3 separate regions of the Homo sapiens genome follow, and regions 1 and 2 are each linked to region 3. Evidence: fine-mapped QTL for protein levels in blood plasma. A gene starts in region 3. Each other region holds a variant in brackets. All regions are shown on one strand. Distances are between the middles of the regions.

Region 1 (8,000 bases), 38 kb before region 3:
TGGTCTATGTTGTGAGGTGCCCAGAAGCACCCACTTCCTGCCTTATTTCTTGCTATGAGGCCTGCAACATGGCCCAGGGGCCTAAGGGAGACTGACTCCACCCCCGGCTCCAGGAGAGCCCAGCTGAGATAATGATATTCCAGCGTTTTCCAATGGCAGGTTCAGAATTGGGCATGTGTGGAAGAAATTACTCCATGACCCTCAACACATAGGATCCTCATCTTCCCTAGTGGCATAATTACAGCCGGGCAGACAGATCCCGGAAAAAAAGACATTCCCTAACCTCCCATGCAGCCAGGAGTCACCAGGTTCGGTCAAACAGGATGTGATCAGAAACTATTTGCAACCAACATGATGGCCTTCAAATGAAAGGGCACGCCTTTCCCGTGCCTGAAGTCACCTCACACTTGAAACCAAACCCAGTTCATAACTTTTCCTCCTCAAACCACAGCCATTCTGGGAATAGGGGGAGGCCAGGCTTTTTTTTTTCCTTTGAGACATGGTCTTGCTCTGTCGCCCAGGCTGGAGTGCAATGGCCTGATCTCGGCTCACTGCAACCTCTGCCTCTGGGTTCAAGCGATTCTCATGCCTCAGCCTCCTGAGTAGCTGGGATTACAGGCGCATGCCACCATGCCCGGCTAATTTTTGTATTTTTAGTAGAGATGGGGTTTCACCATGTTGGCCAGGCTGGTCTCAAACTCCTAACCTCAAGTAATCCTCCCACCTCACCCTCCTAAAGTGCTGCGATTACAGATGTGAGCCACCGCAATTGGCCTGGGAGGCTGGTCTTGATGAAAAATATCATCAACTCCCCTCCTTACAAACCTCATGGCACTTATCTCCCTCCTCCAATGGAGTGATGAACACTGAGACTTCCAGAGAATTCTCAATTTGTCTCCTCCTCCTCTCTAGTCTGGTTGTCCCTACCCTTATTGGACCCACAATTCTTCTCAGGACATCTGTGAAAACTTCCCTGAGTCTAAACTGTCCCCAGGCAAGTGTGTCCTGGTAGTGCCCACCCCGATCACGTCAAGGCCCTGCTCAAACACTCAACGGCTCCCCTGCACCTGCGGCTGTGCATCGGAATCATGTCACAGCTCCATCGACTACACGTTTCCTGAAACCCACCTTGGAGAAATCCCAGGTGGATGTGGGTGGGCCTGGGAAGCCGGTGTGCAGGTGGTTCTAACACTCAGCAGTCGGGGGAAGGCCTGACCTTCCCAACCAGGTGCCCAGAGAGGAACTCCTCTCAGCCTCAGGGAGGCTGGAGCTCTCTGTCCAATAGCGTCTAGTGTAGCTGGGAGCCATCCTATCTCAGAGTCATAGACCACATGTGCCATGGTGTGCCAAAGGGTGGCAAGTGCTGGCCCAGTTTCCTGATCACCATATTCTTTCTTTCTTTTCTTTTCTTTTCTTTTCTTTCTTTTCTTTCTCTCTTTCTTTCTCCTTCCTTCCTTCCTTCCTTTCTTTTCTCTCTCTCTTTTTTTTCTTTTGAGGTGGAGTCGTGCTCTGTCACCCAGGCTGGAGTGCAGTGACACGATCTCGGCTCACTGCAGCCTCCGCCTCCCGGGTTCAAGCAATTCTCCTGCCTCAGCTTTCCAAGTAGCTGGGATTACAGGTGTGCACCACCACACCCAGCTAATTTTTGTATTTTTAGTGGAGATGGGTTTCACCATGTTGGCCAGGCTGGGGTCACCATATTTGCATCTTGGCTTTCACCTCCGGCCATGTCACCAGCCCTGCTCCCTCACACATCCTGTATCCTCACATTGGGACGCCTCTCCAGCCTCCAAACACGTCTCACCCTCTATGCCTTGGAGCCTTCCACTTGGTGTTCCCACGATCACAACGCCCTCCCTTCCTTGATTACAAGGTGAATCCCCATTCATCTTGGAACATCTGTCACAAATGGCGGCTCCTTTATGGCCCTCTCCCAAATCCAGTGACGATGCCCTCCATTTGTCATCCATGCAAATGTTTATTGAGGGCCATTATATACCAAGCACTGTAATTACAAAGATATCATACCTACTCTGCCTTTGATTCTGGGTGAGGAGGCAGACCTATAAACATAACGAGCTGTAAGAATTTTTATTGTCATTCTTTTCATCTTTTCTCCAGTTATAAAAATAATGCACACTCATTGTAAAACATTACAAAAATATAAAATAAGTCCCTCTGACAAAACTATTACTGATACTTTGGCATATAATGATCCAGGTTGGATTTCATGTTTACAAAATTAGGTTTCCAGCATATTGTCTTGCTTCATTTATTCTGGACATCTGTCCACACGGACACGCAGCTGCATCTCATTTTTTGACAGCTGCAGAGTGTGCAAATGTGTGGGTATATCACAATGAACTCACTTCCCTGATAATGGAAGTTTTGGTTATTTCTAATTTTTCTCTATCACTAACACTATTGTATGAAAATCCTTGTCCATACATGTATGTGCATTTGCATGGGTGCGGTGGCTCACGCCTGTTATCCCAGCATTTTGGGAGGTGGAGGCAGGCAGATCACGAGGTCAGGAGTTTGACACCAGCATGGCCAATATCGTGAAACCCTGTCTCTACTAAAAATACAAAAATTAGCTGGGCGTGGTGGTGGGCGCCTGTAGGCCCAGCTACTCAGGATGCTAAGGCAGGAGAATTGCTTGAACCTGGGAGGCAGAGGTGCCAGTGAGCCAAGATCGTGCCACTGTACTGCAGCCTGGGAGACAGAGTGAGACTCAATCTCAAAAAAAAAAAAAAAAAAAGAAGAAGTCTTAAGAGGTAGAATTCTGGAAGGGAAAAATATAAAATGTGCATAGTTAGTTTCAAACTGCTTTACAAAAAGTTGGGTCAAAGTTGCAGTGAGCCAAGATTCTGCCACTGCACTCCAGCCTGGGTGGCAGAGCGACACTCCATCTCAAAAAATAAAATAAAATAAAAAGCTGGGTTAATTTATACTTTTACCAAAAGCATGTAAGGGTGCCTTGAAACGATAAATTATAACACCACTTCCATGTGTACTAGAGGCACACAGAAGAGGATGGACAGTCAGGGAAAGCAGCCCAGGGGAGGGAACTCTTCAATGTGGGTCTGGATGAAGCAGAGTTTTCTAGGCAGAGGCATTTGGGTAGGGCGTTCAGGCAGAGGGGACAGGAGATCCAGTTGGGAAAGGCGTGGCAGCATTTGCAGGGGGTGGATGAGGCTGAAGCAGGGATCAGAGCCAGATCATAACAGGTCTTGAATACCCAGATAAGACATTCCCAGACACTCAAACCTACTTCAACTAGAGCACGTATCACCTTGCACTGGAGCAGTGGAGTGAAAACTGTCCTGCTAAGCTCGGGCTCTCAACCCTAGCACCTCTCCCAAAGCATCATAAGACATCTGCATGTTATATACTCAATGGATGGAGAAGACCCATCCCTGCAAAATAGCCCTTCCCTCCTCTCTACCCTCTCTGTGTCATTGTGGCACTTGCTTTCTTCACTGGACTATGTGTGTGCCCTGGGAAGGGCAACAGTTATGACCACTTCGCCTTTAGAAAGGAGTTGTATCTTAGAGCTCAATGCGGTGCCCAGCTTTGCTGGAGATGGGCTGAATCAATGTTAAGTCAGGAAGGAAGGACCAAACCACTTTCATTATTGGACACATGGTGCCAGTGTTTAAGGCGCAATGAGTGGTTGGCTTGTCCCTGACACTGTCAGATGAGAGCACTGGGCTTTCAGCATGGCAGAGAGATGATGAAATCTGTCTCCAAGCAGCCTCAAAGAGAAGTAAGAATTTAGAGTCCTGCTTAGGGGACTGGGCAGGCCAGGATATGTCACCAAGGCACTCTGTCTCTGGGCAAGCTTCCAGAATAAACTAAAACAAAACTCCACAAGAGTCCCAACAGCCCATACCACCTATGAAGGGCTCACAGTGAGCCAGGCACTTCCTAAATGCTTTCATGTACATGAACTCATTTAATCATTCAGGCAATTCTATTGTCACCCCTCCATCATACAGATGAAGACACCGAGGCTCAGAGTGGACAGGGTAGGGAGATGGAGGAGGCAGAGTCTGAACTCAGGTGGACTGGCACCCACTTGCTGGTTGGCAGAGCACTGGGAGGACCCTCCTGGTCTGTTTCTGCAGGTGTGCTCTGCTGAGATGAAAATGACAGCTGCAGTCTGGTGGGCAGCGTGAAGGCTGGGAGTGGTTGCTCCTCACAGAAGGAACTAAGCACCTACCTTGGCTTCAAAGAAGTTCTTGGCACCT[T/C]TGACACCCTCCAGGGCCACATCGATCTCAGAAAGCTTTGCCAGCGCCATCAGCCCACTGTCCTCCTGCAGCTCCCCTGCCGCGGCCTTGTGGAAAATGAGCAGGAACTACAGGGGAAAGAAAGTAGGGAACCAGAGTCAGTCTCACTGACAGATTCATAACCAGCCCTCTGGTCCAAGCTGAAGTCACTCTGCCAATCACTTAAGAAAGATGTTTATGTATGCATGTGGCAAATTACTTTTTTCCCTCATCAGATTGTCAAAAATGAAAACATGCCGATTTTTCCCAAGGCTATAGGGAAATGGGCACCTTCATATTTATTTGAGAGTGTAAACCGATTCAAACTTTTTTTTTTTTTTTGAGGCAGAGTCTCGCTCTGTTGCCCAGGCTGGAGTGCAATGGCATGATCTCGGCTCACTGCAACCTCTGCCTCTGGGCTCAAGCGATTCTCATGTCTCAGCCTCCCGAGTAGCTGGGATTACAGGTGTGTGCCACCATGCGCGGCTAATTTTTATATTTTTAGTAGGGATGGGGTTTTGCCATGTTGGCCAGGTTGGTCTCAAACTCCTGACCTCAAGTGATCTGTCCGCCTCGGCCTCCCAAAGTGCTGGGATTACAGGCGTGAGCCACTGCCTCCCACCCTCAAACTTTTATTTATTTATTTTCTTTTTTATTTATTTAATTTTTTGAGATGGAGTTTCACTCTTGTTGCCCAGGCTGGAGTGCAGTGGTGCGATCTCGGCTCACTGCAACCTCTGCCTCCCAGGTTCAAGCGATTCTCCTGCCTCAGCCTCTCGAGTAGCTGGGATTACAGGGATGCACCATCATGCCTCGCTAATTTTTTTGTATTTTAGTAGAGACGGGGTTTCTCCATGTTGGTCAGGCTGGTCTCAAACTTCTGACCTCAGGTAATCCGCCCGCCTCGGCCTCCCAAAGTGCTGGGATTACAGGTGTGAGCCACTGCACCCAGCCTATTTATTTATTTTCTTGAGACAGGGTCTCGCTCTGGAGTGCTGTGGTGTGTTCATAGCTCACTGCAACCTTGACCTCCTGGGCTCAGGTGGTCCTATGCCCTCTGATTCCTGAGTAGCTGGGACCACAGGCGTGTGCCACCACACCTGGCTAATTTTTTTTTTTTTTAATTTGTAGAGACAGGGTCTTCTACGTTGCCCAGGCTGGTCTCAAACTCCTGGTCTCAAGTGATCCTCCTGCCTCAGTCTCCTAAAGTGCTGAAATTACAGGTGTGAGGCACTGTGCCTGGCCTTGATGGGCACTTTGGAAATGTTTACTGAAAATAAGATGCTTTTTGCCTTCCAACCATTAATTCCACTGGTGGGAATTTATCCTTCAGAAACATTCCTACAATGGTTTAAACATTATCTATGAAAGTAAAAAATTAGCAGCATCCTAGTTTACAGTGATGAAAGAAAAATCAAATAAACCTGTATATACTATTTTTTAAAAACTAAATAATATTTCCAATGGTTTTTTAACAACTTGTACTTTTCTTGTGTGTCTCATTTTTGCATTAGATTGTTTGCCTTTCTTACCATTTGCTAAAGATCTTCATAGAACCTGGTATGTTTCAAATATTTTAGCTCTATCACTTGCCTTTTAAGTATGTTTATGCTAATTTTCAACTTTCAAAAATTTTACATATAGTGTTATGCTTAGAAAAACCTTCCTCAGCACCAAGGTTATATAAACAACCACCTATGTTTTGTCTACAACTTTTATGGCTTCTTTTTTTTTTTAACCATGTAAATATTTAATCTCTGAAATTTATTTTTATTTATCATGTGAGGTTAATCATTAACCTTATTTTCTTCCAAATGGTTGGTTAGTAATCCTTGCATCATTTGTTGAATAATCCACCCTCCTCCTCCAGATTCAAAATGTGACCTGAATTAATTAATCTTCAGGCTTCCAAAGAACAAACTTTTAAATAAATAAATTGGCCAACCTTTTTTTTTTTGAGATGCAGTCTTGCTCTGTTGCTCAGGCTGGAGTGCAATGGCTCGATCTCGGCTCACTGCAACCTCTGCCTCCCGGGTTCAAGTGATCCTCCCGCCTCAGCCTCCCAAGTAGCTTGGATTACAGGAGCGTGACATCACACCTGGTTAATTTTTGTATTTTTAGTAGAAATGGGGTTTCACCATGTTGACCAAGCTGGTCTTGAACTCCTAGCCTCAGGCCTCCCAAAGTGCTGGGATTGCAGGCATGAGCCACCATGCCCAGCTATAAATTGGCCAAACTTAAATGGCAATTTCCCCATCTTCCTGTCCTCTCCCAAGGCAATTTTGTGGCTTTTTTAGTTCTCTTCTTTAAACAACTGCTATCTAAGCTTCATGACTTATTTTTCCATATGGAAAGAATATAAACTGATACGTTCCAAGCTATCATCGAAAGAGGCTCTCTCCAGGTTTTCAGGTGCTACCTAAAATGTATGCACCCACAGGAAAATTGCAGGTTTCCAGGTCTTTTTTCATAACCCTCTTCCCTAAAAGAATGCCTTCTCGCCAGGTGCAGTGGCTCACGCCTGTAATCCCAGCACTTTGGGAGGCCAAGGCAGGTGGATCACGAGGTCAGGAGTTCGAGACCAGCCTGACCAACATGGTGAAACCCCGTCTCCACTAAAAATACAAAGATTAGCCGGGCGTGGTGGTGCCTGCCTATAATCCCAGCTACTCAGGAGCCTGAAGCAGGAGAATCGCTTGAACCCAGGAGGTGGAGGTTGCAGTGAGCCGAGGTCGTACCATTGCACTCCAGCCTGGGCTACAGAGCAAGACTCTGTCTAAAAAAAAAAAAAAAAAGCCTTCTCAAAAGGGAAAAGAACACTACTTAAAGTAGAGTGATAGGTTAAGCAACTTCTACAGGCCTTCCAAATCCTCACTTGAGTATCATTACTGCCGAGGCTCTCAATCCCCAGAGGGAAGTGTGTTTCATGCCGGTGAGAGGCTCAACCACCGCATCCCCGAAATGCCTTGTAAGACACCCTCTTCCTATTGCTCCCTTCAGGGTCCTAACGCTACCGTGGATATTGTCAAATACAAAGCAAGAGACACAGCAAGATGCCCACGGAGAGGCCGACGGTCAGCCATGTTCAACCACCTGCAGCTTCAAACTCTCTCACTAGAGGCCGGCAGAGACTCAGTTTGCTGTGGATTATCAGAACCTGAACATTGACTTGAAAGAAGACAGGCCCCTTGGAGGAGGCCAGGCCCCCCAAGAATAGGTTGGAGGTCAAGGGGATGGTGACACAGGGGTGGAAAAGATCGAAGCAGCAGACTTCAGGGCTGCGGATGAGAGGCATGTGGAGAGAGGGACTGACATACTGGTCGCTCCGTGCCCTGCTATCCTTAAATCATTTCCTTCACAGAAGGCCCCACCTCCTTGCTCCACGAGGCAAAGAGAACAGGCAGCCCCACCAGGCCAGTGCTCTCTGGGACCCAGACAGGCAGCTGTGAAAAGATGGGAGCACTGGCTGGGCGTGGTGGCTCACACCTGTAATCTCAGCATTTTGGGAGGCTGAGTCGAGCGGATCACCTGAGGTCCGGAGTTCGAGACCAGCATGACCAACATGGTGAAACCCCATCTCTACTAAAAATACCAAAATTAGCCGGGCATGGTGGTACACAACTGTAATCCCAGCTACTCGGGAGGCTGAGGCACGAGAATCGCTTGAATCTGAGGGGTGGAGGTTGCAGTGAGCCGAGATCGCGCCATTGCACTCCAGCCTGGGTGACA
Region 2 (8,476 bases), 81 kb before region 3:
TTGTGGGCCTCTGAGTACATTTTCACAGGAGAAGAAAGAAAAGAAATCAACCTAGGTCCTTCTTATTGTTGAGTTTACAATAAAGAAAAGACAGACTCTGACCTCTCCCTCTTAGCCTACCATTTTCTTACAGCCTGGAACAGCCTAGAGGAACCAAGCAACTTCTGAGCTCAGGAAATCACTTTCAAAAAAAAGGTGACAAATCTACGTAGTAAGTCCCATGTGGGTAAAATCAGCAAGGAGAAGCCAAAGTAGGTGCTGAGTCAGATTCCAGCACAGTGTCTGATACTTAACTTTGACAGTGTTCCCGAATACTGCTTTCCAGAAGTCTTGAAGACAGATTAGCTACCACCACTATTCCACTAAGAACTCAAAACATACACATCTTTGAAAACCCCCTGGATCTTTGTTATAAAAATTATGTGGCCGGCACGGTGGCTCTCACCTGTAATCCCATCTACTCGGGAGGCTGAGGCAGAAGAATTGCTCGAAGGCAGAGTTTGCAGTGAGCCGAGATCACGCCACTGTGCTCCAGCCTGGGCAACAAAGCGAGACTCCGTCTCAAAAAAAAAAAAAAGTGCTACTACAAATCTCTATTTCCTAGCTATGCAAAACTTACCCAGAAAAAATATGGCAAAATTTGGGATGGAGTCCAGCCAGTACTATGTATAGTCTGCCACAAAACTAACACAGAATGAATACCAAGGAACCTGAATCTGCCCCCATTCCCACTGCCTACCTACGTTTTTCCAAAAGCAGAAAAAAGACCAACTCCTCTAGCACTCTCCACATATACTAAACGAATCAGTAGTTCTGTCCCCACCACAGCAGCCAGCAATTTTTAGTTTAGCCAGATCTGGATTAAGATAACACAAGATTAATAACTTTATTAGTGCAAATTAGTTCAACTACTTCAAAAAGAATTGGCAATATCCATTAAATCTAAACTGTATGCCTACCCTGTGATCCCATAACAAACTGCTACACATACATCCAAGGAAACTGAAGTTATATTTCTACCAAAAGACAAGAGATTCATAGTAGCTTTATTTATAATTGTCAAAAACTGACATTTGGGTATTATGTCCATCAATGTAAATGTACATCAACAGGCAAACCAATCTGCAGTATACTCATATAATGAAATATTACTCAGCAGTTTAAAAAAAGGAACTAGTCAGGTGCGGTGGCTCATGCCTATAATCCCAGCACTGTGGGAGGCTAAGGTGAGTGGATCGCGTGAGGTCAGGAGTTCGAGACCAGCCTGACCAACAACGGTGAAACCCTGTCTCTACTTAAATTACAAAAATTAGCTGGGCATGGTGGTGGGCGCCTGTAATCCTAGCTACTTGGGAGGCTGAGACAGGAGAACAGCTTGAACCTGGGAGGTGGAGGTTGCAGTGAGGCTGCAGTGAGCCAAGATCTTGCCACTGCACTGCAGCTTGGCAACAGAGTGAGAATTCGTCTCAAAAAACAAACAACAACAACAAAAAAAATTACTGATATTCACAATGATACTGCGAAATCACCCAGATATCATGTTTAGAAAAACAAGCTGGCTAGAAAAAAATATATACTGTATGATTCCTTTTATGTGATGTTCAAGAAGAGTACTATGGTTTGGGTATATGACCCCTGCAAATCTCATGTTGAAATCTGATCACAGATGCTGGAGGTGAGGTCTAATGGGAGGTGTCTGGATTATGGGCAGATCCCTCATGAATGCCTTGGTGCCACTCTCACAGTAATGAGTGAGTCCTTACTTGATTTGTTCCCAAGAGAGCTAGTTGTTAAAAACAGCCTGACACCTCCCTCCTCTCTCTCTCTCTTGCTCCCCTCACCATGAGATCTACACACACTGGCTCCCCTTTGCTTTCCACTATGAGTGTAAGCAGCCTGAAGCCCTCACCAGAAGCAGATGTTTCTTGTACCGCCTACAGAACCATGAGCCAAATAAACCTCTTTTCTTTATAAATCACCCAGTCTCAGGTATTCCTTTATAGCAACACAAACAGACTAAGACAAATAGATAATAAATGGTGATAGATGTCAGGAAAGTACTCATCATGGGAAGAGGAGACTACTAAACAGGAAGGAGAGGGAATTGGAGTGCTGGAAAAGTTCACTATCATGATCTAAGTGGTGACTACAAAAGTACATATACATGTATATGTACATGTAAAAATGTATTGAACTATAAACTTCACATTTGTGCATGTATTTACCATATTTTACCTATCAATTATTATTATTGTTTCTTAGAGACAGTGTCTCAACACTGTTGCCCAGGCTAGAGTGCAGGGCTGTGCCCATAGCCCACTGTAACCTCAAACTCCTGGGTTCAAATGATCCTCTTGCCTCAGCCTCCCAAAGCACTGGGATTACAGGTATGAGCTACTATGCCCAGCTCCAGTTGTGTTAAATAAATCATAAATGCTTTAGCAATTACAAATACTTCAAGGCCAAGTATGGTGGCTCACGCCTGTAATCCCAGGACTTTGGGAAGCCGAGGCAGCTGGATTGCTTGAGCCCAGGAGTTTGAGACCAGCCTGGGCAACATGGCAAAACCCCATCACTACAAAAAAAAAAAAACAACAAAAATTAGCTAGGTGTGGTGGTGCTAGCCTGTGGTCCCAGCTACTGGGGAGGCTGAAGTTGGAGGATCACCTGAGCCCAGGAGGTTGAGGCAGCAGTGAGCTGTGATCATGACACTGCACTCCAGCCTGGGCTACAAAGTGAGACCCTGTATCAAAAAAAAAACTTCAGTGAGCATGAAACAAAGCTATTTAAACTATTTTAAATGAATGTCTTCCGATAACATATTAAATTCATTCCCTGCTTAAATTTTTGCGATTAGAAAAGAAAAAACAAAACAAAACAAAAAAAACACTGGCCAGGCGCAGTGGCTCATGCCTGTAATCCCAGCACTTTGGGAGGCCAAGGCGGCAGATCACATGAGGCCAGGAGTTCAAGACCAGCTGAGCCAACATGGTGAAACCCCATTACTACTAAAAATGCAAAAAGAAATTAGCCAGGTGTGGTGGCACATGCCTGCAATCCCAGCTAGTAGGGATGACTGAGGCATGAGGATTGCTTGAACGCGGGAGGTGGAAGTTGCAGTGAGCCGAGATCGTGCCACTACACTCCAGCCAGAGTGACAGAGTGAGACTCTGTCTCAAAAAAAAAAAAAAAAAAAAAACAAATAACACCATTATCTTGATAAAATAATCTTCAAATCTGTCAGCTCCTAAGACCATAAAGAGGCCTACATTCAAATGAAGCAAGACTCATTTACTAGGCTAAAAGAATGTAGATCTTCAAATGCTTTTTTTCAAATGTCAGAAAACAGCTAAGTAAGATGAAAAGGAAAAGTCCAAACATGAGGGGGACCCACATTACTTATAATAGTAAAAGACTGGAAGCAATCTTGTAAAAGTGGCACATTCACTCAACAAAAGAC[A/T]GCTATAGTAACATCTGCACACAGTATAGTTATACATATGTCCAAAAAAAGGCAAAAAGAACACAAGACAAAGGAATATTAGTGAGGTGAAATTAATGATTTGTCCTCTACTCTCATAACTTGCAATATTCTTTAATTACTTTATAACAAAATGTATTTTAATTATCACAAAAAGCATAGGCCTGGCCTGTTGAAATACTTTTACAGTCCCAACATAAATGTCATAAAAGTTATCACTCATTTCAACTTTAACTTGGTTTAAGACGAATTTTAAGGTTAAAAAAAAAAAAAAAGGAAATTCTTCTCCCATCTATTATAACAGAAAACACCTTTTCCTTCGGCATCCACCTCATCTGGCAATACTAAATCTCTTCACTAATAAATACACCAACATTTTTGAGTAACTTTTAAAATATGATCTGTTAACACATTTACTGATGACAAAACTTCATGAAGCAAACTTAGGCTTCAATATTCACTTTATTACTAAACATTTTACCTAAGGAATTAACAAAGAACTTTTTTTTTTTTTTCCCAGAAAGCCAACAAAAGTCCAAGGAATTGTCTACATCTACCTGGCCCGTACACTATACATGAAACCTTGCAAAACATTATTTCTATGTGAATTATTCTTTCTATGGCATGTCTTCAAAAAAATTACAGATACTGCTTATCTGTAATTACAATTACTGCTGGCTTTTCTCCTTCCTAACAGGAATTTAAATTTCTAATTTACAGTATTGTGATAAACACTGCAACCCAATACAATTCTGAATCATTACCTATGCCATGAAATTAAGGTCAGCTTTACGTCTAATAGCCCAAAACTGAGGACAATCCAAATGTTCATAAATAATGTTATGAACAAATACTGTAAAGTCATACCTTGGAAAATTCTTGGCATTAAAAAACAAACTATTTGCATGCAGCAATACGGATGAATCACAGATAATTATGTTAAGCAAAAGATACCAGACCCTGCAGCCATAAAAAAGAAAAAGATCATGTCCTTTGCAGGAACATGGATGGAACTGAAGACCATTATCCTTAGCAAACCAATGCAGGAACAGAAAACCAAATACCGCATGTTCTCACTTAAAAGTGGCAGCTAAATAATAAGAACACATGGACACACAGGGAAACCACACACACTGAGGCCTCTCAGAGGGTGGAGGGTGGAGAGTGGGAGAAGGGAGAGGATCGGGAAAAATAACTAATGGGTACTAATCTATACCACAAACCCCCATGACACACATTTACCTATGTAACAAATCTGCACATGTACCCCTGAACATAAAAGTATTAAAATAGGAAAAAAAAAAAGATGCCAGACCTAAATATGATTTCCATTTACATGAATTTCTAGAAGACGCAAATATTAATCAATAAGTCACAGAAAACAGAACAGTGGTGGAGGAGGAAAAATGACTACAAAACAGCTGGGGGAAACTTCTGGGGATAATGAAAATGTTACATATCTTGATTACAGTAACAGTTACATCAGTGTGTGCATTTCTGAAAACTCATCAAAATGTACACTTAATGAGTATACTTAAAATAAAGGTATTTTATTGTATGTAAATTTTACCTCAGAAAAGTTCTTTTTTAAAAAGACTAAACTTACTAAAAGTAAATAGACTGCACCCCCCAAAAAAGCAATGTATTCCAAGACTAAGCTTTAATATTTTTTATGTTAAATTACCTTCTTTAAAGGTATTAAAACAGATGTTAAAGTTTTAGCTAAAACTTAAAACTGAAGAACATTATCTACAAATGTACTGTTGACACAGCACCCATTAGCCACATACATGTGGCTATGTAAAGTTAAATTAAGATTAACCAAAATTTTAAAATCAGTTCCTCGGTCCGGCATGGTGGCTCACGCCTGTAATCCCAGCACTTTGGGAGGCCGAGACGGGCGGATCACGAGGTCAGGAGATCGAAACCATCCTGGCTAACATGGTGAAACCCTGTCTCTACTAAAAAATACAAAAAAATTAGCCATGCATGGTGGTGGGTGCCTGTAGTCCCAGCTACTCTGGAGGCTGAGGCAGGAGAATGGCATGAACCCGGGAAGCGTAGCTTGCAGTGAGCCGAGATCGCACCACTACACTCCAGCCTGGGTGACAGAGCGAGACTCCGTCTCAAAAAAAAAAAAAGAGAAAAAAAAAAAATCAGTTCCTCAAGGGCACCAGGGGGAATAACTAACTTCACAGTGGACAAACCTAGCAAAGTATGAAGGTCAACATCAAGGATGATAAATCATGCTGACATATATACTCTTAATATGATGAAAATGACACTTTGTCATCTTCCTCTAAAAATCCATAACCCCAGTCTAATCATGAAAAACATCAAATTCTAAAAGAGAGTCATTCTACAAAATAACTAGTACTCCTCAAACTTGTCAAGGTCATCAAAAACAAGGAAAGACAAGAGAAACTGTCATAGCTAAAGAAGCCTAAGGATGCATGACTAGGTATAACATGGTATCCTGGATGGAATTCTGAAACAGAAAAAGACACTAGGTACAATTAAGGAAATGTAAATAAATGAGGGACTTTAATTAATGACAATGTATCAACATTGGTTTATTAATTATAACAATGTACCATAGTAATGTAAGATGTTAATAACTGGAATTCCGCACTATCTTCTCAATTTTCTGTAAATCTACAATTGTTGTAAAAACTAAAGCCTATTATTAAAGAAAAAAAGTTAAAATTTAGAAGTTAAGGCTGGGCCCAGTGGCTCATGCCTGTAATCCCAGCACTTTGGGAGGCCAAAGTCAGCCGATCACTTGAGGTCAGGAGTTCAAGACCAGCTTGGCCAACATGGTGAAACCCTGTCTCTGCCAAAAAATACAAAAAATCAGTTGCACATGATGGCGGGTGCTTGTAATCCCAGCTATTCGGGAGGCTGAGGCTGGAGAATAGCTTGAACCCAAGAGGCGGTGGTTACAGTGAGCAGAGATCATGCCACTGCACTCCAGCCTGTGAAACAGAACAAGACTCCACTTCAAAAAAAAAAAAAGAAGTTTTTTCTACACTTTTTAAAAATGCAGTTCCTCAGTCACACCAGCTAGTAGCATCTCAAGCGCTCAACAGACACAACTGGCTAGTAGTTATAGTACTGGATGGTGGAGGTTCATAGAACATTTTCTTCATAGCAGAAAATTATAACTCATCCTAACTTATAAACAAACTCTTATCTACTTAGCACTAAAAACTCAGTAATATCTAAAAACCTTCAGTGATATGTTTATTCCAATTTCAAACACTTATGTTTTTAAATCGTTTTTTAAAAAATCAATGTAACATACATAAATGTAACATTGAAACGTGTTCCACTCCTCAAAGCAGCAGTTTACAAAGTACAATCTATGGACCTCCAAACTCTTTCAGGGCATCCATGATGTGTTTTTTTAATAATACTATTATAAAATACTATTGTGATCTCATTTGCTAGTTTGAGAATCTTCTATTGCAAAAACCAAAATATTATTTGCATTTTTCAATGTGTTGACACTTGCACAGACTGTGCAGTGATGGGGAAAACTGCTGGCACTATAGCATGACTGAAGTTAATTGCAACAAACTGTACCAGCAGTCACTATATTCTTCACTGCCATGTGGCATGTACTCATAAGAGAGAGGGGGGAAAAGCCACTTTTATTACGAATGCCCATGACGAGGGAATAAAAACTATTAATTGTATTAATCTTGATCCCTAGGAATACATCTTTTTAATATTCTACATGATGAAATGGGAAATATGCATTTCTACTGCATACAAAGTCATGTAGAAGGATACTTAATGCAATTGTTTTGGGTTACAAGCTCAACTAGCTGCTTTTTTTCACGGAACATAATTTTGACTTGAAAGAATAGCTGCACACAATATGGGTGTCCAGACTAGGATATGTAGCAGACTTTTTTTTTCAAAATGAATGAGACTTCAACAAAAACAATTCAGAGTACCTGTTGCCAATTATAAAATTTGACCTTTCAAGCAAAAATTGGAATTTTGGAAAGTTTCTATTCGTCACCATGAGTTAGAAAGTTTTCCAATATTTAAAGGCTTTTCTGATAAGTGCTGATTTCAATGAAAGTGATTTTTTGATACTGTATAATGTAAGATATCCATTCAACATCGAAGATAGACAAATGGATTTTATATTTACAGAAGACAAACTATTGATATAACTCGGATTTCATATTGCAACTAACCTTTAAAAAAAAAAACTACCTGGTGATGCAGTGTTAAAGTAAAGCGATAAAAATTAAAAATACAAAAAAAGAAAAAAAACACTGCTGGTTGAATTTTAGTGTAATATCAAAGAATATCTGCAATTATCTGTAAAAGCTATTGAAATTCTATTACAACTATATATATATATATATATATACATCATTGTGAGGATAATTTTCCTTCATATACTTCAACCAAAGTAATAAATAGCAACAGACTGAATGCAGAAGCAAATATAACCCAGTTGCCTTCTATAAAGCAAGACATAAAAGAAATCTGTAAAAAGGTAAAACAATGCCAATTTTATCAACAAATTTTTAGAAATGTTTTAGAAAATAGGTATGTCATATTAAAAATATATTTATGTTAGCATGTAATGAGTTTGTTATTTTTAAATAAACTAATACCTTTTAGATTTCTTGATATGATAGATACAACTAAAAAACCAAAAGCTCTTTGGGGCCCTCAATAACTTTTAAGAGGGTAAAGAGATCCTAAGATCAAAAAGTTGATTAACATCTACCTCAGAGAAAGAAGAAAAAATGACAAAGCCTGGGCAACATGGTGAAACCCTATCTCTATAAAAAAATACAAAAAAAAAAAAAAAAGATTAGCCAGGCATGGTGGCACGCCTGGAGTCCCAGCTACTCAGGAGGTACAGGTGGGAGGATAGGCAGAGGTTTCAGGGAGCCAAGACTACACCACCACACTTGAGTCTGGGTGACTGACCAAGACACTGTCTTTAAAAAAAAAAAAAATTAACAA
Region 3 (8,000 bases):
TCCCTTTGAAAGAGGCCTCCAGATAAGTCCAGGGTAATTAAAATTTCCTGTCTAACCTTGACTGCTCCACCAGCTCACGTTACAGCCACGGATACACGCTGTAGAGTCAGTTTCTTCTGGGCCTTCTCATTCTTTTAAAATCAGGCCACTATTCTCTTGGCTCAGGCTATCCAGTAACAGGCTTGGAAATGGAGAGGGAACTTTCTCTGGCCGGGCTGATGGTGCCTCTGGCTTCCCACACTCATTAGAAAACACTCTTTCTTCTACAACACACCATTTAGGAGCCAGCCTCATTTGTTAGGTCCTAAGGACTCACAAAGGACACCACTCCAAGCACCCAACAAACTCAGAGGCTGGGAAGGATCCAGTTTTTTTAAGCCTTGAAAATGTAAGAAATCCCTAAGCCAAATACTTTTAAATAGGAAAATCAAATTTAAACGATCAAAGCATGTCTCCCAGTATCTGTATGAATCTTTCTAGCCCCAAACAAAAAGACAGGGTGTACTTTGTACTGGTCTAATCAGGTTATATACTGCAAGGGGCCCAACGAACTAAGGCGACATCAGAACATGAATCTAGAAACTGCTTAAAAGTGAAATTCTTAAGCCAGGCGCGGTGGCTCACGCCTGTAATCCCAGCGTTTTGGGAGGCTGAGGCGGGTGGATCATTTGAGGTCAGGGGTTCAAGACCAGCCTGGCCAACATGGTGAAACCCCATCTCTACTAAAAATACAAAAATTACCTGGGCATGGTGGTGCGCGCCTGTAGTCCTAGCTACTCGGGAGGCTGAGGCAAGAGAATGGCATGAACCCAAGAGGTGGAGCTTGCAGCGAGCCAAGATCGCACCACTGCACTCCAGCCTGGGCAATGGAGTGAGACTCCATCTCAAAAAAAAAAAAAAAAAAGGAAGGCCATGTGAAGACACAGAAACACACACAGGGAGAGCACCAGGTGCTCAGGGTGGCAGAGATTACGGTGATGCGCCCATACCACAAGAAATACCAAGAATTCTGGCAACCACCAGAAGCCAGGAAACAGGCACAGAAGGAGTCTTCGCTGGCGCCTCAAGGGCAGCACAGCCCGGCTGACACGTTGGTTTCAGACTTGTCAGACTTCTGATTTCCAGAACTATGAGAGGATATACTTCTGTTGTTTTATGCTACCCACTTTGTGGCATTTCATTCAGGCAGCTCTAAGAAACAAACGACCTCACCCAGCAGCAGAGGAGCTAACGAGTTCCTTCCGCAGAACCCGGAAGGGCAAAGCACACAGTCCCACGGGGACCCGGAACTCACCAAGAGGCCAGGTCACCACTCCACAGCTCAAACTGTGGGCTAAATCAGGTTCAAAAGATAAAGTGGACTCAGCAAAGTGAATTATTAAACAAAAAAGGACAACACAAAATGTGTACTTTTTTTATTTTTTTGAGACGGAGTCGCACTCTGTTGCCCAGGCTAGAGTGCAATGGCGTGATCTCGGCTCACTGCAACCTCCACCTCCCAGGTTCAAGCGATTCTCCTGCCTCAGCCTCCTGAGTAGCTGGATTACAGGCGTGTGGCACCATGCCTGGCTAATTTTTGTATTTTTAGTAGAGACGGGGTTTCACCACGTTGATCAGGCTGGCCTCGAACTCCTGACCTCATGATCCGCCTGCCTCAGCCTCCCAAAGTGCTGCGATTACAGGTGTGAGCCACCACACCCAGCCAAATGTGCACATTTACCCAAATTATGGATATGTGATAATCTAAAAATTAGGGGCTAAAATCCACCTGGCCTTCACCATAGGCTGAAACATGGAGCTAAATGCATCACATACATGAATTAATTTAATCCCCACAATAACCCCACATGGCAGGTCCTGTGCTTTCCCATTTGACAGAAGGGAAAACTGATGGCACAGAGCTTTTAAATAAGCTGCCCAAGGAACCTTCCAGGGAGCAAGTGGTGGGGCTGGGGTTTGAACCCAGGAAGCCTGCCTCCAAGTGCTCACTCTTCACAGCCTCACAAGACTGCTGCTGCCATGAGTAAAATCTGGAAGGTAATCCAATAGAAAACAAATTGGTGTGTTACATTTTCTTTAGTGTTTTTAACATTCTTATGTTATTAATTTAAGCTGTTGTGGCCATACCACCACCACCAAGGATGAGCCATCTGAGAACGGGGACAACGCAGAGAGGAAGGTGGCTTAACAAAAAGAGAAACTAAGCACTGATGGCAGCACCTAAGCGCCTAGATCCAGCCACACCTGAAGCTAGTGATGGCTTTTTGGTTTCCTCAGCCAAATTATTCTCGTTTTGTTTATGCCAATTTTGGTTGCAAGTGACAGAAAACTCAACCTAGAAAGAAATACCAAGTACTGGTTGAACTGTTAGCTCTGCTGGGATCCCAGGCCACACACTGCCTTCCCCTTGGCTTTTTTTTTTTCCCCTTGAGACAGAATCTCCCTCTGTCACCCTGGCTGGAGTGCAATGGTGTGATCTCTGCTCACTGCAACCTTTGCCTCCCAGGTTCAAGCAATTCTCCCACCTCAGCCTCCCGAGTAGCTGGGACTACAGGCCCGCGCCACCACTCCCGGCTAATTCTTGGATTTTTAGTAGAGATGGGGTTTCACCATGTTGGCCAGGCTGGTCTTGAACTCCTGACCCCAGGTGATCCGCCTGCCTCGTCCTCCCAGAGTGCTGGGATTACAGCCGTAAGCCACTGTGCCCGGCTCCCCTTTGCGTGATCCTGGTCCAGTACCTGTTTGCTCACAGATGCCACCTTGCTTCGTCTCCCAAGACCCTCTGAGCATATGGACTCTTTTTATCACTCTTAGGTAGTCAACTACAAGTTGATCTTTCCAAAGATTGTTTTATAGGAAAAACAAAAGAAGCCTGAGTGGCCACAAGAAAACTTGAAGATAAAGGTCCCTCCCCAAGATCCCCTGAATCCAGCTGGACTGGGAGGAACTGGTGGGGTCTGGGAGCAGCCCGGCCAGGGCAGTCTTCCCATGAAAGGCATTACCCCAGAGAAATCAAAGGGCTCCAACAAACCTTGCCTCACCCATTGCTTTTCCATTTTCGCCCCAGCCGCATTCTTTAGCGCACTGGGCCTTCCTGAACTGCCCAAACTAGACCCAGAAAACGCCACAGATCAGTGCCTGGAAGCCAGACAAAGAAACCAGGGTGTCAGGGAGGCAGAGGAGGCGGAGGCTCCCAAGTGCCGGCTCTGCAAACCTCCATGCAGGGGCAGCGGAGGCTCAGGCGACGCAGCGCCAGTCACAGCGCCTTTAAATAGAACCTCCACGCGGAGGGCAAACACATTCCATGCGCTTTTAAAAACGCCCAAGCATGACCTGGCCGGCGGCCTCAGCTCCCCCAGGCATTTTTCCGGTCTCGGCTCAATTCTGGAAATATTAATAGCTCGGTTAAGAGCTTACCGGGTGCAAAATACTTTTCGGCCTTAAAAGGCAGGGACTGTTACTGCTCCCACTCTCCAGATGAGGAAACTGAGATCCCCGGAGGTTCCAGGCGACGAGGTGGACTAGTGGGTCTCTATCGCCTGCCTCTGGCTCAGTGTCTCCCCAGGTGAGCGGCTCCCCGCGCACTGGGGCTCACAGAGCAGGACCGCAACGAGCCCCCGCCGGACCGGTGCCAGCGGCCAAGTTCGGTTCCCACAACCGCCCCCCCTCCCCGCGCCCCCAGGAGGCTCCCGGGCCGCGCCTGCTCCAGGAAAGTCCTGAATCTCTTACAACGACTTTACCAAACTCCCCGTTCTCGGCCTCCGCTCATTCATCAGACCCCGCGCTGCAGCCAAGGATTAACTTTCCCCTTTTGTTTTAAAAGATAAAAGGCCAACAGGGGCTAATTTTTCCCTTGGGGGGATACAGTGAAAGCTGGCAGGTGAGGCGCGGCGACGGCTCCCTTTCCTAGAAGTTGCTTTCGGAGCAAATCTCCGGACTGGCGGGCGGAGGGGGCGGGACCAGTGGTCGGGGTTGGGGGACCTGGAACTCGGGCCCGGCAGCCGCCGAGAACTTTTGGGCTCCGTCCCGGAGAGCTCCTGCTCCTGGTGTCCCCCCTCTTCGGCCCCGTCCCCCACCGCGCCGAGATAGACCCGAGCACGCAAGATCTGGCTGCGTTGGGCCAAATGCTACCTGCACCCCGGGACCCCTCCCCACACAAACAGGGCCCGGGACTTCGGACCAGAAAGCCCTCCCGCTCCCTCCCTGGTCCCGGGGGCGAAGGGCGCGCAGCGGGAGCTCACAGTTTGAACATGCTCTCCAGGTCCTTGATGAGGCGGCGGCTGAACTCCGGGAACTCCGTGTAGGGGTTGAAGACCCTGCAGCGCCGGGGCCGCGCAGCGCCCTCGTTGATGTCCAGCCGCCGGCTCAGCTGGGCGCTCAGCTCCGCGTCGGCGCTGGCCGTGGGCGCACGGGCGGGAGGCTCGGGCTCGGGCTTGGGCTCCGGGGCTGGGGCGCCGAGGGGAGCCAGCTGGGGGCCACTCTCCTCGGCCTCCTCGCGCCGCAGCCGGCGCTCCAGCTTGCACGCCAGCTCCTCACTGGCCATGGCGGCGGATCGCAGGACGCGGGAACGCGGGGACGCGGGACGGGACGCAGGGAGCTGGCGGGCGGCGCGCTCCTCGCAGGCTCGAGGCTCTACAACACTCCGCCGAGGCGGCGGGGACCCGGCGGTTGGGAGGGTCTGAGGACGGACTGGCGGGCGGGGCGGTCGGGGCGGAGCTGCGGCTTTAAGGAGGCGCCAGGGCTCAGCGACTGCCAGCCTGGTGGGAGGAGGCCGCCGGTGTCTGGGTGTCTGCGCGTCCCGGAGACCCCGACCTGCTTCCTCTCCCCGCGGCTCCGGGCGGGAGGCTGACCGTCCCCCCGGGACCAGGCAGGGACCCTCGGATCAACTCCGACCTTGCTGCCCCTGTCAGCTCCGGGGAAAACCGTAGCGGGAAAAAGCGTCTCGACCGTTCAGACGGTGCCTTTCTTGTCCCCCAGAAGTAACCCGACTGGAAGCGCTCGCGGCCCGGGACAGGCTGGGTGGGGGAGGCGAGCGCCCCCGAGCGACACCCACGCGTCCCCCGCGTCTGGGAGTGGTGCCCACCCTCCCCGGGGTCAGGGAGTGGGAGGCGCCCGCCCGGAGCGTGGGGCGGGGGAGCTGCTTTTCAAACACTCATTGGAACGAAATGTTTCCAAAACATGCTAAAAATACTAAAAACAAATAAGCAAACAAAAAAGAGAGAGAGCAAACGAGCAGAAAAAACTCCCGTTTTCCCTAGAGGCAGGAAAGCAGCGTAGCTTCAGGGACTCGGGTTTTTTTGCGTGAAACGCACAAGAAAAGAGAAGAAACCTGGCGCGGAGACTCACATCCGCAATCCCAACACTTAGGTGTTGGTGGCAGGATCTTTTGAGCCCAGGAGTTCGAGACCAGACTGGGCAACATAGTTAGACTGTCTCTACAAAAACTTTTAAAAAATCAGCCAGGCATAGTGGCGCTCGTCTGTAGTCCCAGCTACTCAGGAGGCTGAAGTAGGAGGATGGCTTGAGCCCGGGAGGTCGAGGCTGCAACGAGCCATGGTCAGGCCACTGCACTCCAGCCTGGGCGACAGAGTGAGACCCTGGCTCTAAAAATAAACGAAGAAGAAGGAGGGAGAGGGGGAGGAAAAAAGAAAGGAAAGAAGGAAAAGAAGCTTGAAAATTAAATCAGCATTTTTAACAAGAGGGTAAAAACAAATACAGTCGTCATTCTCCCCAAGGAAGGCTGATGCCGCTGTTACATCAGCCAGGCGTTGAGAATCTTGTAAACACGGGTCTGTCCCCACTTGAGAACGACGCTGCTCTGACCCACCATGGGCTGATGACTGGGGCAGGTCAGTGACCCCGCTGGACTATGGTTGTCTGAGACCCAGGGACCAGCCTTTGGCATGCGAGTGCAGGGCATGCGGGGGACCTGGGTTAAAATGTTATTTTTAAAAAGTTATAAAGGAAAATACGTTTTTTAAAGAAAAGTATAAAAATCTTTAACATTCCTACTGAACAACTTGACTTGGTACAGAGAATACGGGTTTTACATATACAATGGCAACCCTGCAAATAGATCACGGGGCGCTACACTTCCTGACCTGGTGGTGGTGACTAGAAGGTTGGCTTTGTTGTCACATCTGTTTTGACCACTTTATGTGACACATTTCAGAGAAATAAGGTCAAAAATTTTGTGTAATTAAACTTTTTTTAATTTTATATTTTAAAAACTTTTTTTTTTTTTGAGATGGAGTTTCATTCTTGTTTCCCAGGCTGGAGTGCAATGGCATGATCTCGGCTCACTGCAGTCCCTGCCTCCTGGGTTCAAGTGATTCCCCTGCCTCAGCCTCCTGAGTAGCTGGGATTACAGGCGCCCACCACTGCACCTGGCTAATTTTTTGTATTTTTAGTAGAGACAGGGTTTCTCCATGTTGGCTAGGCTGGTTGTGAACTCCTAGCCTCAGACGATCCTCCCACCTCGGCCTCCCGAAGTGCTGGGATTACAGGCATGAGCCACCACACCCAGCTGGTTTTGTTTTTGTTTTTTTTTTTTTTTAATGTTCTTATTCCATCGAGCTCTCCTCAAGAAAGAAAAAGTTCAAAATTCTTAATAGTCTCCATCAACAAGAAACTCTGGGGCTGGGCGCGGTGGCTCACACCTGTAATCCCAGCACTTTGGGAGGCAGAGGCAGACGCATCACTTGAGCCCAGGAGTTTGAGACCAGCTTGGGCAACATGGCAAAACCTTGTGTACAAAAAAAGATAAAATAAAAAATAAAAATAAAATAAAAAACAACTAGCCAGGTGTGGTAGTATGCACCTGTAGTCCCAGCTATTTGGGATCACTTGGGCCCGGGAGGTGGAGGCTGCAGTGAGCCATGATCATGCCACTGCACTCTAGCCTGGGTGGTAGAGTAAGACCTGTCTGAGAGAGAGAGAGAGACAGAGAGAGAGAGAGAGAAAGAAAGAGAGAGAGAGAGAGAGAAACTTTGCATGAGTAGGTAATACAATTTTTTTTTTAAGACGGAGTTTTGCTCTTGTTGCCCAGGCTGAAGTGCAGTGGTGCGATCTCGGCTCACTGCAACCTCTGCCTCCCAGGTTCAAGCGATTCACCTGCCTCAGCCTCCCAAGTAGCTGGGATTACAGGCACCCACCACCAAGCCCAGCTAATATTTTATATTTTTAGTAGAGACGGGGTTTCACCATGTTGGCCAGGCTGGTTTTGAACTCCTGGCCCCAAGGAATCCACCTGTCTTGGCTTCCCAAAGTGCTAGGATTACAGGCATGAGCTACTGTGCCCGGCCAGTAATAGAATTTTTAAACCATTTTTTACATGCTGAAATTTACAACAGTTAGTGTTAAAAAAATCTAACAGCTCTTTTTATTTATGAATATAATGTTGAAAATTTTTTAAATTAAAAATGACTTTTTTTCTTTTCTTTCTTTCTTTTTTTTTTTTTTTTAATAGAGATGAGATCTCTCTATGTTGCCCAGGCAGGTCTTGAACTCCTGGGCTCAATTGATCCTATTTGCCTAGGCCTCCCAAAGTGCTGGGATTACAGGGGTGAGCCACGGTGCCCAGCCTTGAAAATTCTGAAATTAATGGGAGTGGATTGTGAACAAAATTTCACTTTTTCATTGAAGTGTTTCCAAATGAGGGAGTGCTTTTAGATAATGCGCTTGCATACTGTGAGCAGTCACCTGGTGCCTCTCAAAAGGCACATCATCTGCAAGGGGCAAAGATTGAGGGCTGTGTCCACCAGGCACCCAGCCTAGACAGAACGCCCTCTGAGCTATGTCCCGCCCCTGAGGGAAAATAGCACAGGCCCACAGTATTCACCAGGCAACACCTGGCCACCCCTCAGAATGAAGTGTTAGTATCTCACTAGTGACAATTCCAGGTGGTCACCGTTACGGCCACAGCCCAAAGCCTGTTCTCCTTCTCCTCTTTTCCGATGTCCAGTCGGGCACCTGACAAAGACTCAAACATGCTTGCTGGG

Which allele goes with the higher level. Alleles are on the strand shown, and positions count from the first base shown. The strength of an association depends on the size of the effect and on how common the allele is.
As copies of T replace C in region 1, the plasma level of the protein whose gene starts at base 4,644 in region 3 goes down (moderate association).
With allele A in place of T in region 2, the plasma level of the protein whose gene starts at base 4,644 in region 3 is lower (weak association).

Evidence for each region. A credible set is the group of variants that fine-mapping cannot tell apart. PIP is the posterior inclusion probability: the model's chance that the variant is causal. The UK Biobank Pharma Proteomics Project read protein levels with antibody pairs (Olink). The fine-mapping took linkage between variants from a reference panel, not from the people measured, so its PIPs are less certain.
Region 1: its variant is the best candidate, but not a certain one, in a credible set for the plasma level of the EFHD1 protein (UK Biobank, PIP 0.54). The variant lies in the coding sequence of EFHD1. If it changes the protein, the assay may bind it differently, which can mimic a change of level.
Region 2: its variant is the best candidate, but not a certain one, in a credible set for the plasma level of the EFHD1 protein (UK Biobank, PIP 0.68).

The regions. Positions count from the first base shown.
Region 1 is chr2:232,668,669-232,676,668 of GRCh38, reverse strand. EFHD1 (EF-hand domain family member D1) reads right to left here. Exons shown (of 4, transcript NM_025202.4): 3 at 4,226-4,360. Among named protein-coding and RNA genes, the nearest start is that of GIGYF2, 25 kb to the left of the region's middle. The variant T/C (reference allele first, on the strand shown) is at 4,254.
Region 2 is chr2:232,711,098-232,719,573 of GRCh38, reverse strand. The region is part of intron 2 of GIGYF2 (GRB10 interacting GYF protein 2); the gene reads right to left. Among named protein-coding and RNA genes, the nearest start is that of GIGYF2, 18 kb to the right of the region's middle. The variant A/T (reference allele first, on the strand shown) is at 3,461.
Region 3 is chr2:232,630,248-232,638,247 of GRCh38, reverse strand. EFHD1 (EF-hand domain family member D1) reads right to left here and starts at 4,644. Exons shown (of 4, transcript NM_025202.4): 1 at 4,242-4,644. The coding sequence starts at 4,543. RefSeq lists silencers at 4,175-4,469, 4,547-4,606.